Linked DNA regions of Homo sapiens. The protein of the gene in region 2 purifies or fractionates together with the protein of the main gene of each other region. This does not show direct contact. Each region holds a gene or a part of one and is shown on either strand. Other genes may lie near its edges. The genes, in order: HMGXB4, SMARCA1 and CECR2.

The links.
Region 1: the proteins of SMARCA1 (region 2) and HMGXB4 purify together in Homo sapiens (affinity purification with mass spectrometry; 2 studies listed by BioGRID and IntAct, with this or other methods). This does not show direct contact.
Region 3: the proteins of SMARCA1 (region 2) and CECR2 purify together in Homo sapiens (affinity purification with mass spectrometry; 3 studies listed by BioGRID and IntAct, with this or other methods). This does not show direct contact.

What each region holds. Positions count from the first base shown.
Region 1 is NC_000022.11:35,281,397-35,285,150, reverse strand, and holds part of HMGXB4 (HMG domain-containing protein 4), read right to left. Parts: intron 1,190-3,754; coding exon 1,108-1,189; intron 1-1,107. UniProt on the Homo sapiens protein: Negatively regulates Wnt/beta-catenin signaling during development.
Region 2 is NC_000023.11:129,467,748-129,471,501, forward strand, and holds part of SMARCA1 (SWI/SNF-related matrix-associated actin-dependent regulator of chromatin subfamily A member 1), read right to left. Parts: intron 3,580-3,754; coding exon 3,457-3,579; intron 1,159-3,456; coding exon 1,026-1,158; intron 1-1,025.
Region 3 is NC_000022.11:17,554,460-17,558,213, forward strand, and holds the end of CECR2 (chromatin remodeling regulator CECR2), read left to right. Parts: 3' UTR 1-3,692; downstream 3,693-3,754. UniProt on the Homo sapiens protein: Regulatory subunit of the ATP-dependent CERF-1 and CERF-5 ISWI chromatin remodeling complexes, which form ordered nucleosome arrays on chromatin and facilitate access to DNA during DNA-templated processes such as DNA replication, transcription, and repair.

The DNA.
Region 1 (3,754 bases), on a different chromosome or scaffold from region 2:
TATAGGCATGAGCCACTGCATCCTGCCTCTGGTGTCTTTAATTTGATCCCACAATACAAGGCCTATCAACTTAGGTTAAAAAATATGTGTAGAATTTGAAAAAAGATGTTAGGTTTTTACCAAATTTCTGAATGATTAGAACCAAAGAAGGATTTCCCTAGAGCAGCTCAGAAGCAATCCTCTAGATGTGTAATCTTACCCTTCCATTGTATAAGAGTTTTATGCTTTATAAAGCATATTCATGTGTGCCTAACACTGCAGTCTTTTGGAGTTGGTAGGGCAGCGATTTTACACATTAGGCAAATGAAATTTGTAGCGGTTAAGTGACATGTGTCCAGGATCTCTGGTATAGTGTTTTTCTTACCTCATTAACTTCTAATACAGAGACAAATACAGTCCCTGACTTATGATGGTTTGACTTTTGATTTTTCAACTTTATAAGGATGCAAAAGCAATATGCACTCAGTAAAAACTGTACTTCTAGTACCCATACAGCCATTCTGTTTTTCACTTTCAGTACAGTATTCAATACATTACATAAGATATTCAACACTTTATTATAAAACAGGCTTTGTGTTAAATGACTTTGCCCAAGTGTATGCAAATGTAAGTGTCTTGAGCACATTTAAGGTGGGCTCAGCTAAGCTGTGATGTTCTGTAGGCTAGGTGTATTAAATGCATTTTTGACTTACAGTATTTTCAATTTTCAATGGGTTTATCAGGATGTAACACTATCATAAGTTGAAGAGCATCTTTACAACAATATAATACAAGATATCTCATTATAACTTTACATCCAAGGGCAATTTAAGGAAAAGGCCAATTGTAGAATCTTGGAAATAAACAATTGTATATTTTTGTGCATTTATGTATGTGCTTTACAACATTTATTTTTACATAGTTTCCCACCTTATCCGTTTAAGAGATATGTATAGAAAGTTCATCTCTTTTACAGATGAGATAAACTAAGGCAAAATCTAAAGTGATTTGCAGAACTGAGGAAAGAAACAAGATTTATGCTCTAATGCTACAGGAAGAAGAAATTAATCGCACTGCTTCAAGATATAAATGGAAAGCAAAAGCGCTACAGATCAGTAATGTTCTTACCTATACCTGGATGGTCAGCCACAATGGTCACGCGATACTCTTTACAGAACACCTGGTAGGCCGACATGTTCTTCTTTTTTGGCTAATGCCGCATAGAAGATACAACAGGGTAAGACTTGATTAGAACCCAGGTTTAGTAACCCTGAATCCATAGTAATAAAATAGAAGGATACCTAAACTTTTTCATCAAGGGAAGAGTTCCAAACTACTAACCAGCTTTCCTAAACAGGATAATATATATATATATATTTTTTGAGATACAGTCTCACTCTGTCGCCCAGGCTGGAGTGCAGTGGCGCAATCTTGGCTCACTATAACTTCCGCCTCCTGGGTTCAAGCGATTCTCCTGCCTCAGCCTTCTGAGTAGCTGAGATTACAGGTGCCTGCCACCACACCCGGGTAATTTTTGTATTTTTAGTAGAGATGGGGTTTCACCATGTTGGCCAGGCTGGTCTCGAACTCCTGACCTCAGGCGATCTGCCCACCTCAGCCTCCCAAAGTGCTGGGATTACAGGCTTGAGCCACCATGCCTGGCCAGGAAAATACATTTTTAATCCATGTTACTTACCACTCAGAGATGAACATCAGTTTTAATTTTAGTAGGTAAAAACCACATGCTAAATTACTTGTAAAGACCTTCCTTCTCCCTATATACAATCCCATGTTACACATTTCTTTCAGAATTAAGTGCTAAGAGAATCTTTACCACTCCTGGGGTGTCTATTTTTCTCATCTTTGAAAATCTGAACCACATAATTTCCTTTTAAACTTTGGAGCCAGAAACCCAAAAGCCAAATCTATGTTCTTTTTGCTTCTCTGGTTTTGATTTCTAATCTTGTAATTTCCCTCATCCTGCTTTTATTGTCATTTGTAGCTTCTCATTATTTGATTGTTCACATTCTTTGGGTTCAAGGTGAGAAGTGAACAAATAACTGAAGACAATTCTTTGGTAGTCACTGTCAGATGCAACGCCTTCACTTCAACAAACAGCTCTGTACTACCTGAGGCATGTTTGTTCTTCACTATATTCTGACAATGCCAAAAGGAATATATGATTTTTGAGAAACAAAATCAAATTATTTTTAAAGTCAGTTCAACAAGAAATATATAAAACAGAAGATTATATTTCTATGCATTCCATTTCACAATTATACGTGGTCTAAGGGGAAAAAGTTAAGTTTTTCCTATCTAGAAAGAGACATGCAATTAGATTCATCTATCCAAATTTCTCATTGTGAGCATGGGAAAAAATAAAGTCAGAGAAACTGTAACTTGCTGAGGGTACCACCACTAAGCTAGTAATAATACCAGACCCTGGCAGTTATAACCACAACCCAGGTAGCCCTGACTTTCAGGGCCATGCATTATGGGCCCAAGAAAGAACATATGTTGCTCCCTTACAGAAAAAGTTAACTATTTAAAATAAAGAAAGAGTTATCACTTAATAATCTTAATCTAACAAACAAATATTTTCAGTATGGCTTTCCTCCAAAACTCATCTGGAAGCATCAAAATATGATTCTCCGTCTTTCATCTACTCCTAGTCCTTTTTGGCCCTACAGTTATTAAAATGACATGAATGTGGCCGGGTGGGGTAGCTCACACCTGTAATCCAGCACTTTGGGAGGCCAAGGCGGGCAGATCACGAGGTCATCCTGGCTAACACGGTGAAACCCCGTCTCTACTAAAAATATAAAAAATTAGCCGGGCATGGTGGTGGGCGCCTGTAGTCCCAGCTACTCGGGAGGCTGAGGCAGGAGAATGGTGTGAACCCGGGAGGTGGAGCTTGCAGTAAGCCGAGATTGCACCACTGCACTCCAGCCTGGGCGACAGAGCGAGACTCCGTTTCAACAACAACAAAAAATATGACATGAATGTATGGTGCTTTAAAAGCCCTTGGGGGCTTTTGTTTGCCTTAAGAGTCAGGTTTTGTGATGAAAACCAAACCAGCCACACAGTCCTGTCTCGTAACTTCAGAGTTGTATCTTGCTTTAAACAAAGCTCGATCGTGCACTCTGCCTAGCTGCCTTAGTTCTTCATGTTGTTCCCATAAAATAACGACCCTCAAAGGACAAAGACCGAGGCTGATGGCAATAAAAAGCTTATGTGATGACTCCAACTTTAATTCCAAAAGCGATTCTGAAATCATTTGATGAATAGAAACATTCCTAGAACACCTTCCAAGGTAACTGCTTTGAATGAGATTGCACTTATTTGGAGATAAAATTTGTGGTATGTTTGTTAAATTTCATACTAATATTTTAATAATGGCTTATCTATATGCCTGACATTTGCTAGAATACATGATGAAAGAAAAATTTGTGGAAGTCTACACACTGCCAAATCTTTCCCAACTGTACAATCAATCTCACTATTAAATACTGAGAACATTAGAAAGTATATATGCTTGAGAGATTTCACAGCTTGTTTGGCCATATTATAAAACTTACAAGGAAGGTGTTTAACAACGTTTTCTCAAACACAATACTGTAAAAGGTTAATGTTCCTATTCTATAAGGCTAACTATAGCTGTCACACTAATCACAATTCTTGGCCAATATACTATAGATCCAAATTCACATACTGAAGAAAAGGGTTTCCTTCATAACTCTTATAAAGGACTTTATTCGATTATGTAGAAACTAGA
Region 2 (3,754 bases):
TATATTTATTGGTACTGTAATGTTTCTTTCCTACTATTGCAAAAACAGAATTTCAGTGGTAGGGTTAAATAGATTTGGGGCAGGGGCTATCATAGAAACTTAAACCTACTTTGTAAACTTAAACCTACTTTGCCATTGTTTCAATGACAAAAAATGCTCTAGATTCTAAACATCTTGTTTCAAATGATAAGTTTAAGAGCTGAACCTATTTGGAAGTTAGAAAAGTCCCATGTACTACATATAGAAAACTTGCTAGACATATTTACCTATTTTTAATAAGATTTCTGGATAGCTAAACACGAAGAGGTTTCGCCCAGGGAGGGCACCAAAGCGCTGCGCCCTCTTGGCCCATACTTTGCCCTACACGCTTCATCTGTATCCTTTACAATACCCTTTATAATAAACCAGTAAGTGTAAAAAAAATCCATATGCTTCAGCAGCTAAACTGATTCTGGTCGAGCTCAACAACACAGGTGAGTAAGAGAGGGAGAGGATTTGAGGACCAGTTAACAGATTGATTAAAGCAATCTTTTCAGCTCTACGCCCGCTAGCCCCAAGTTAATGGGACCCACAGGAACTCTCTGGAATAGGGTGGAACTCTGAGGGTGTTTGAGCATCTAAATGGGCCTGACAGGAACTCTCTACTTTAAGGACGACCTAGAAAGAAAGGCACGAATTCAATCCACTGAATGTGAATCTCAGAACTGAACCAGAAGACCAAATTCCAGAGGTGGGAAGGTGGGAAACTAATTTTGTCAATGCTTATCCAAGAGCCACCCTTGTTTTATCAGAGCTTTATTTGCCTCTTTTAGCTAGGTGATAGAGACAATAGCAGTCAGTTTGTTAGGATAAATCTTATAACCTTTCTTATAACCTTTTCATAGAAATACAATTATAGTTTATACTCTCATCTATGTCTTATTCATAAAAGTTTAAAACATCTCTGAACAAAGGTACAATTAAATTGATGCTAAATAAATGAATAACGTTAAAATACAACACCATGTTTCAAATTATATACAAACCTGAATACTCCATGACCTCCTCAGGGGATTTGCCCTCTACCTCTCGAGCTATGTTATCAATGTCATCTCTTCCATATTTCTCATTAGCTTTAATAAACTGGTTAAAATCTCGTTTAGTCCAGTTTGTGAAACCCTGTGAACAAAAAGTTAAGCATTATCAATAGAGGTTAAATTAATAAATCCATTTATTGCCCTATTTACTTCTATACAATGATACATTAAAAAACACTTTAAAAGACTTAAAATGTTTCTCCTTATAAAATTGCACATATTTTATGTTGGAATCAAAAGTTGAGTGAGAGTTGTTATAGAAATAACTGCTTTTCTATTACAAAGAGAATGTTGATACATAGTTCGAAGATCTGTAGTTTTTAATTTCATATTTTATAGATGCCTACATTAAAATACAAATGCATGAAAATAAAAATGCTAATATAAATGCTGAAGTCGTGATATTCTAGTACTTCAATGATTTTTTTCACAGATCTGTTCCTACATAAATTAAAAGAGAGAAATGTGGATGCACTAAATCAAAAGAACACTGAGGAATAACCAAAAGATAATGCAAAAAAAAATTGTAGCTCTTTACATCATTCTGAACTAGTGTGAATAAATAATTTCTGTTCTAAATTATGTTCATAAATAGAACTTCTACAAGCAGAACGTTATTGGAGCCACTCAATTTCTTTACTAAAACATAAAACACTTTAGCCAGTGTTTTAAATTCCCTTGGCATTATTAGCATGTCTGTGAAGTCACAAGACCAAGAATTTGTCTTCCACTCCTCGAGCCCCAACTCACATAAATGTGATACTCCAGACACTGCAAAACTCTATCCCTGGCTTTTAGTTGATAAAGATTTCAGATGACCCCACATTTTGTTCCTACGTACTGCCATGGTTTTTTGAAAAAGATTAATTATTTAAGGCAGCAGAGAAGGACAAAAATGAATTCATATACTAGGAGAAGCAGAAAACTGATTATATTTCTAATTACAAACTAAAATATTATCTCAGTTGAGACTGTATATTCATGTTATACCGTACATTCACAATATACTCCAAGTCATGTAGCATTCTAAAGCCATAACTTTACTTTTACATTCAGGAAATACATTTTGAAAATAGAACATGAATATTTAAATGTTTTATTTTATTCTGTGGTAAGTTCTAATATTCAGCCATCTGCCATTATATTTTCAAACTAAACTTTATTACTTCCAGGCATTTGGCTCAAAAACTTATGAATGTAATTTGTGAAAATCCATACAATAAAATTACGTTATAGCAAAAAAAACCTATATAATAAATAATATACAAATATAAAAACTATCTTTCAATAATTAACGTGGAGAATTACCTACTACTATGCATCGCACATTGTTCAAAATTTGTTGAATAAATAAATCTTGCTGGCAACCCTCTATACTAAAGTAATGTCCTACGGTACACATTTTGTTTATTTTGCAAGCCTTCTATGCTGAAATTTTTATCTTCTATAGTTTATTTTAGAAGTAGAACACTCGTAAAACTCATGATAGCAATAATGACTTAAAAGCATTAATATTTTGTTCAAATGGAAACCTTCCTAATTTAATAATTGTTATACAATGATCACCTTAAATAATAATAATAATAATAAAAGCTTCAGAAATCTCTCATCATTGTATGAAAATTATAAAAAAAGATAAAAAGAATTTTGAAAATTATGAAATTATTCCATTAATAAAAAATTAGTAGAATATAACTTCAGGAGACAATTCACATCTATAAACAAAAGAAATTTAAATTTTCAAGAATATGTTAATAACAGGCTTGGCACGGTGACTCACACCTGTAGTATCAGTTGCACTTTGGGAGGCCGAGGTGGGTGGATCACTTGAGGTCAGGAGTTTGAGACCAGCCTGGCCAACATGGCAAAACCCCATCTCTACTAAAAACACAAAAATTAGCCAGGCACGGTGGTGGGTGCCTGTAATCCCAGCTACTCGGGAGGCTTGGGCAGGAGAATCACTTGAACCTGGGAGGTGGAGGATACAGTGAGCTCAGATCGCACCACTGCACTCCGGCCTGGGTGACAGAGCGAGACTGTCTCAAAAAACAAAAAAGAATATGTTAATAACTACTGTCTATCAGAATTCAAATGTGGATTCACTGACCTTATTATAATTGGCAAAATGTATGTCAAATTGCTAATACTTGACACTTATATTTTGCATATACATACTATCCACTATTTCCAAAAGGGCATATTCTATAAGATCAATTTTTAAAAATAAGGAGATTTGGTCTAAACATGTTTACAAAATAGCCCTGAGTTTTGTTGGTGTGTCACACTAGGATACTAGGCCCATACAATAAAAAGTGTGATCTATATTTTCTTTTTTTCTATTGATTGACTGTAAGTATTACAGCCATTGAAAATATTTTACTTGTGTGAGAAGTTTTTCCTTTTCTTCAGTCTCTTCTGGTGTAAGAGGTTCAGCTCCATCAATCTTTTTTTGCTCTTCTCTTTGAGCCAGAGCTGGATTTGGGATATCAGGATTCCTTGGAACCTATAAATCAAGAGATAAACTAAGAGTAAACTGATGAGAAAAATTAATTACTAAGGCTGTATATACACATATCAATCTTTAGAGTTATTTCAAGAGTAAACAATATAAAATCATAGCCAGAATGACACACGGTCCTCTCCACATTTCTGCTACCATGATCCTATTGAAGTAAAAA
Region 3 (3,754 bases), on a different chromosome or scaffold from region 2:
ACATATGCTGTCCGTGGAAAAGGAAGCTAATCGGAAGCATCCATGATACAGAGAAATGAAAGCCAAGACACCAGTTCCAGGATGATGGAAGTTCATATCCGTACGCAAATGCTGAACCTGGTGCTGCTGCCTAGGGCTCAGGCAGATTTGAGAGTTGAGTAGGGAACACAGGTGCCTCTAAGGTATAATGCACAAAAATACAGATTTTCTCTCAGAGAGGTTTTAATTTTAAATTTGATGTATTTGCAAGTGGATTGAGTTTTGAGCCTGTGTTCTCACTGGATCCTAATTCTTGTTAGAAACCTATCACTGGCATAACCTGGTTTAGAAGAGTGAAGAGGACAGAAGGATTGTGGATGGGTCTGCCCTTTAGCTAGTATCCGCTAACATGGGGCATTACTACTTCAGTTTCTGTGTTTGTGCAGAAGCAGGGAGGAGGTAAAAAGCTAGTTTGGAGCTGGTTAGACCTGGTCTAGGCCCAGAGAATTTGGCCACTGACAGCCTTTCTCTTTTCCTGGTAATGCTGGTTTGAATCAGAGGCCTCTCACTTCTCCTTAACAGGAGCACTGACACTGTGGGCCTCTCCCCATGACTACCCCAGGGGCCTGGGTGGGAGTGGCTGTAAGCAGCAGTTGGGCCATTGCCCCCTTTCCTTCTGCCCTCGTGGTCCTTGAGCAGTTGTGTGCACACTCTTCCAGGTAATCCTGTCTCCTCTCTCTCCCAGTGACCGCCCCAATCAGCTGTTGCTAGAGCGATGCTGTGAACGATACAGGAAAAGTCAGTAAATCCCTTTATCCTTAATCTCCCTTCTTGGTTTTCGACAGAAAATATTAAGGAAGAGCAATAGGAAATAGAACTACTGTATTATAACACTGTGAACAAGAACATCAGCAGCAGCAGAATTGTCAGCCTTCCTGCGTCCTGTGTGGGAATGTGTCCATGCCTTATAGGTACTAGTGCTTCGTCCATTGTCCAGGGAGTGTCCTGAGCTTTCACTGGTCTTTGAAGTGCAGATCTGCTATAAGCTGTCTGGAGCTGCAAGGTTGCAGGAATCCACAGGAGCGTGAGCTGCTGTGAACCCCTAGCCCACCCATCCCCAAGCAGGATCTTCTTCTCACCTTTTCTTCCTCCTCTAGCACTTCTCTTTCCAAGTGTCTTAAGCAGATGCAATGTCTTAAAGCAGATGCAAATGCATTTGCCATCTTCTCCATTAGGAAAATGATGGTTATGTGATATGTTATATTTAGGAAGTAGTGTGTAAGGTATCCTGAAAAGGTTTGCTCTCAAGCTAGAAGGACATTTCACCCTGTGGGTCACTGTCACCTTGTCAGCGTGCCGGCTCTCAGTGGTCCCCAGGAGGATGGGGATAGCTGAGATCGTGGAGAATGGGAAATACCATTGCATCTCTTTGATTTAACACTCATGGCTCACCTTTAGTAGAGTTGTTAATAAGTTAGAAACTTGTGTCCCTAAGGCCCAAGAGAAAAGATGAGCTTCTTGGGAGGATTCTGGGTTTGTTTTCCCCTCAGAATTAAAAAATAGTTTTTAATTCAGCTACTTTTTCCCCTCAGTTAAAAGGTAGCAGGAGCTATTGGCTGAAATTTGTTACAGTGAATGAATGTGGAGAATAAATAAGAACAAACCCTGTAGGATTCTTGTTGACGTAACTTTCCATCCCACCTCTCCGCCTCTCCTTCATCACCAGCCTTCATCAGGTTGGTTTAGTTTACCTGGCCGTACACACGAGCTGCTCATCAACAGTTCGTATCTTCTCACTGAGCCCGGGCCAGATGCTCTCAGAAGGCCTTCTCATGCTCCTCTTCGTTAGGCTTAGTGAAAACCTTAAGACCTGCAGTTTGTGCCCCTCAGTTCAGTCAGACCTCAGCTTTAAATGTCGATTTACTCTGTCTTGTTCCCTGAAAGTGTTTCTTGTGACTAAGCATTTGGTGTCATTATCCCATGCCATTTATCTGCTGTATAGTTACTATATTATTTTTGCTGATTCCTACTGCTGGCAGATGCCATCCCAGGCCCACAAAATCCCAGTGTTGCAGTCACCACAGCTGTCAGAAACAAGTTTGCAATCCATACTTCTTGGTTCAATTTTTTTTTTTAATGGACATTCAAATCTGTAAATACTACACTGCTCTTAAGACCTGATTTGAAATTTCACAGGAAGGCCTAATCCTATAGTCACAAGGTAAGGACAGTTGAGTAGTGTAAGAACCCCAACCTGCTTGCAGAGAACCTTGGTTTTCATAGAAAGGAAAGGCTGAAGGTTTTCTAGCATTGTTGCCCTTCTTTGTCTGTCAGTCAGTTCACCCTCTGTGATTCTCCATGGACCCGCATTGCAGAAAATCAGTCCCATATATTAGTGAGCCATGTACTGCCCAATCCGGGGGCTCCTGGGGTGTGGTGTGTCCACCAGTGACTCTCCGGACACTAGCTTCAGTAAGGATACTTCTTATTTCGGTTGAGAATGCAGAGGCTTTTATTCGTGGACTCACATCACTGCATAGCACAAAGAATGTGATTGCCATTTGCTGCGTGAGAAAAAGCTGGGCTCCCTATTTCTTTTTTGGGTTGGACTCTGCCGTGCAGCCATAGGACACCAAGCCTCACGCACTTTCCCCTTGGGACAGTAGTGTTTGGGTGAATGTTACTGCATCCCGTTTTTTTTCTTTTCTTTTTTTTTTTTTTTTTTTTGAGACGAAATCTTGCTCTTGTCCCCCAGACTGGAGTGCAATGGCACGATCTCGGCTCACTGCAACCTCCACCTCCCAGGTTCAAGGGATTCGTCTGCCTCGGCCTCCCAAGTAGCTGGGACTACAAGCGCGCACCACCACTCCCAGCTAATTTTTGTATTTTTAGTAGAGGCGGGGTTTCACCATGTTGGCCAGGCTGGTCTCAAACTCCTGACCTCAGGTGATCCACCCGCCTTGGCCTCCCAACATGCTGGGATTACAGGCGTGAGCCAACACACCGGACCTTCATTTTTTAAATTAAGCTGGGACACAAGTTTTGCCTCCAGGCTGGATGTTGATCCTGCTCTGTGCTAGACAGATGTGCGGAGGGACTGTTCCGGGCTCGGCTTGACCTTTTCCTACCTAGTTTCTCCCTCTTGTCCTGCACAAGAGGACTAACTGAACTCTAACGTCAGAACGGCTGACGAGCAGTTGATTGTCCTTGCTTGTGTTGTTGACAGGGGTGGGTGGGGTGGGAGCAGGGGTATGGATATTGCATAAGTTATTGAAATGCTGACCCCCGTTCAGGAAACCATGCAGCCCCTTCCCTTCCCTTCCCTTCCCTTCCTTTCCCTTCCCTAGCCAGGGCTCAGGTACCTCACTCTCCTGCCTTGTGCGTAGCTCCTGGGGCCCCGGTCAGTCCCCAGCAGCCTTGGCACACAGTGTCTGGAGCCTCTGCTCCTGCTGCAAAAGCAGAAACCATGTGAACCTTCTGGCCAGTACTGGAAAGGGGAATGCTATTTATTTTTATATTGTGTATATTTTGTCGTGGTCTGCTGATTCCCTGTTTCACTGAGAGCGACACTTACCTCAATAGTTAGTTCAATATTGTGTGTTGGATAATTTTTTAAAAGAACTTTTTAAAAAGCTTTTTGATCCTTGGAGGTCTGTAGATTTATTTCCATATGAACTGGTTATTTTGTATAAAGTACATGCTTAAAATAGCAAGGCTCCTCTGTGTGTGTGGTGTGTCTGTCCATGTGTCATTTCCATATCAGGGCAAACCCAGA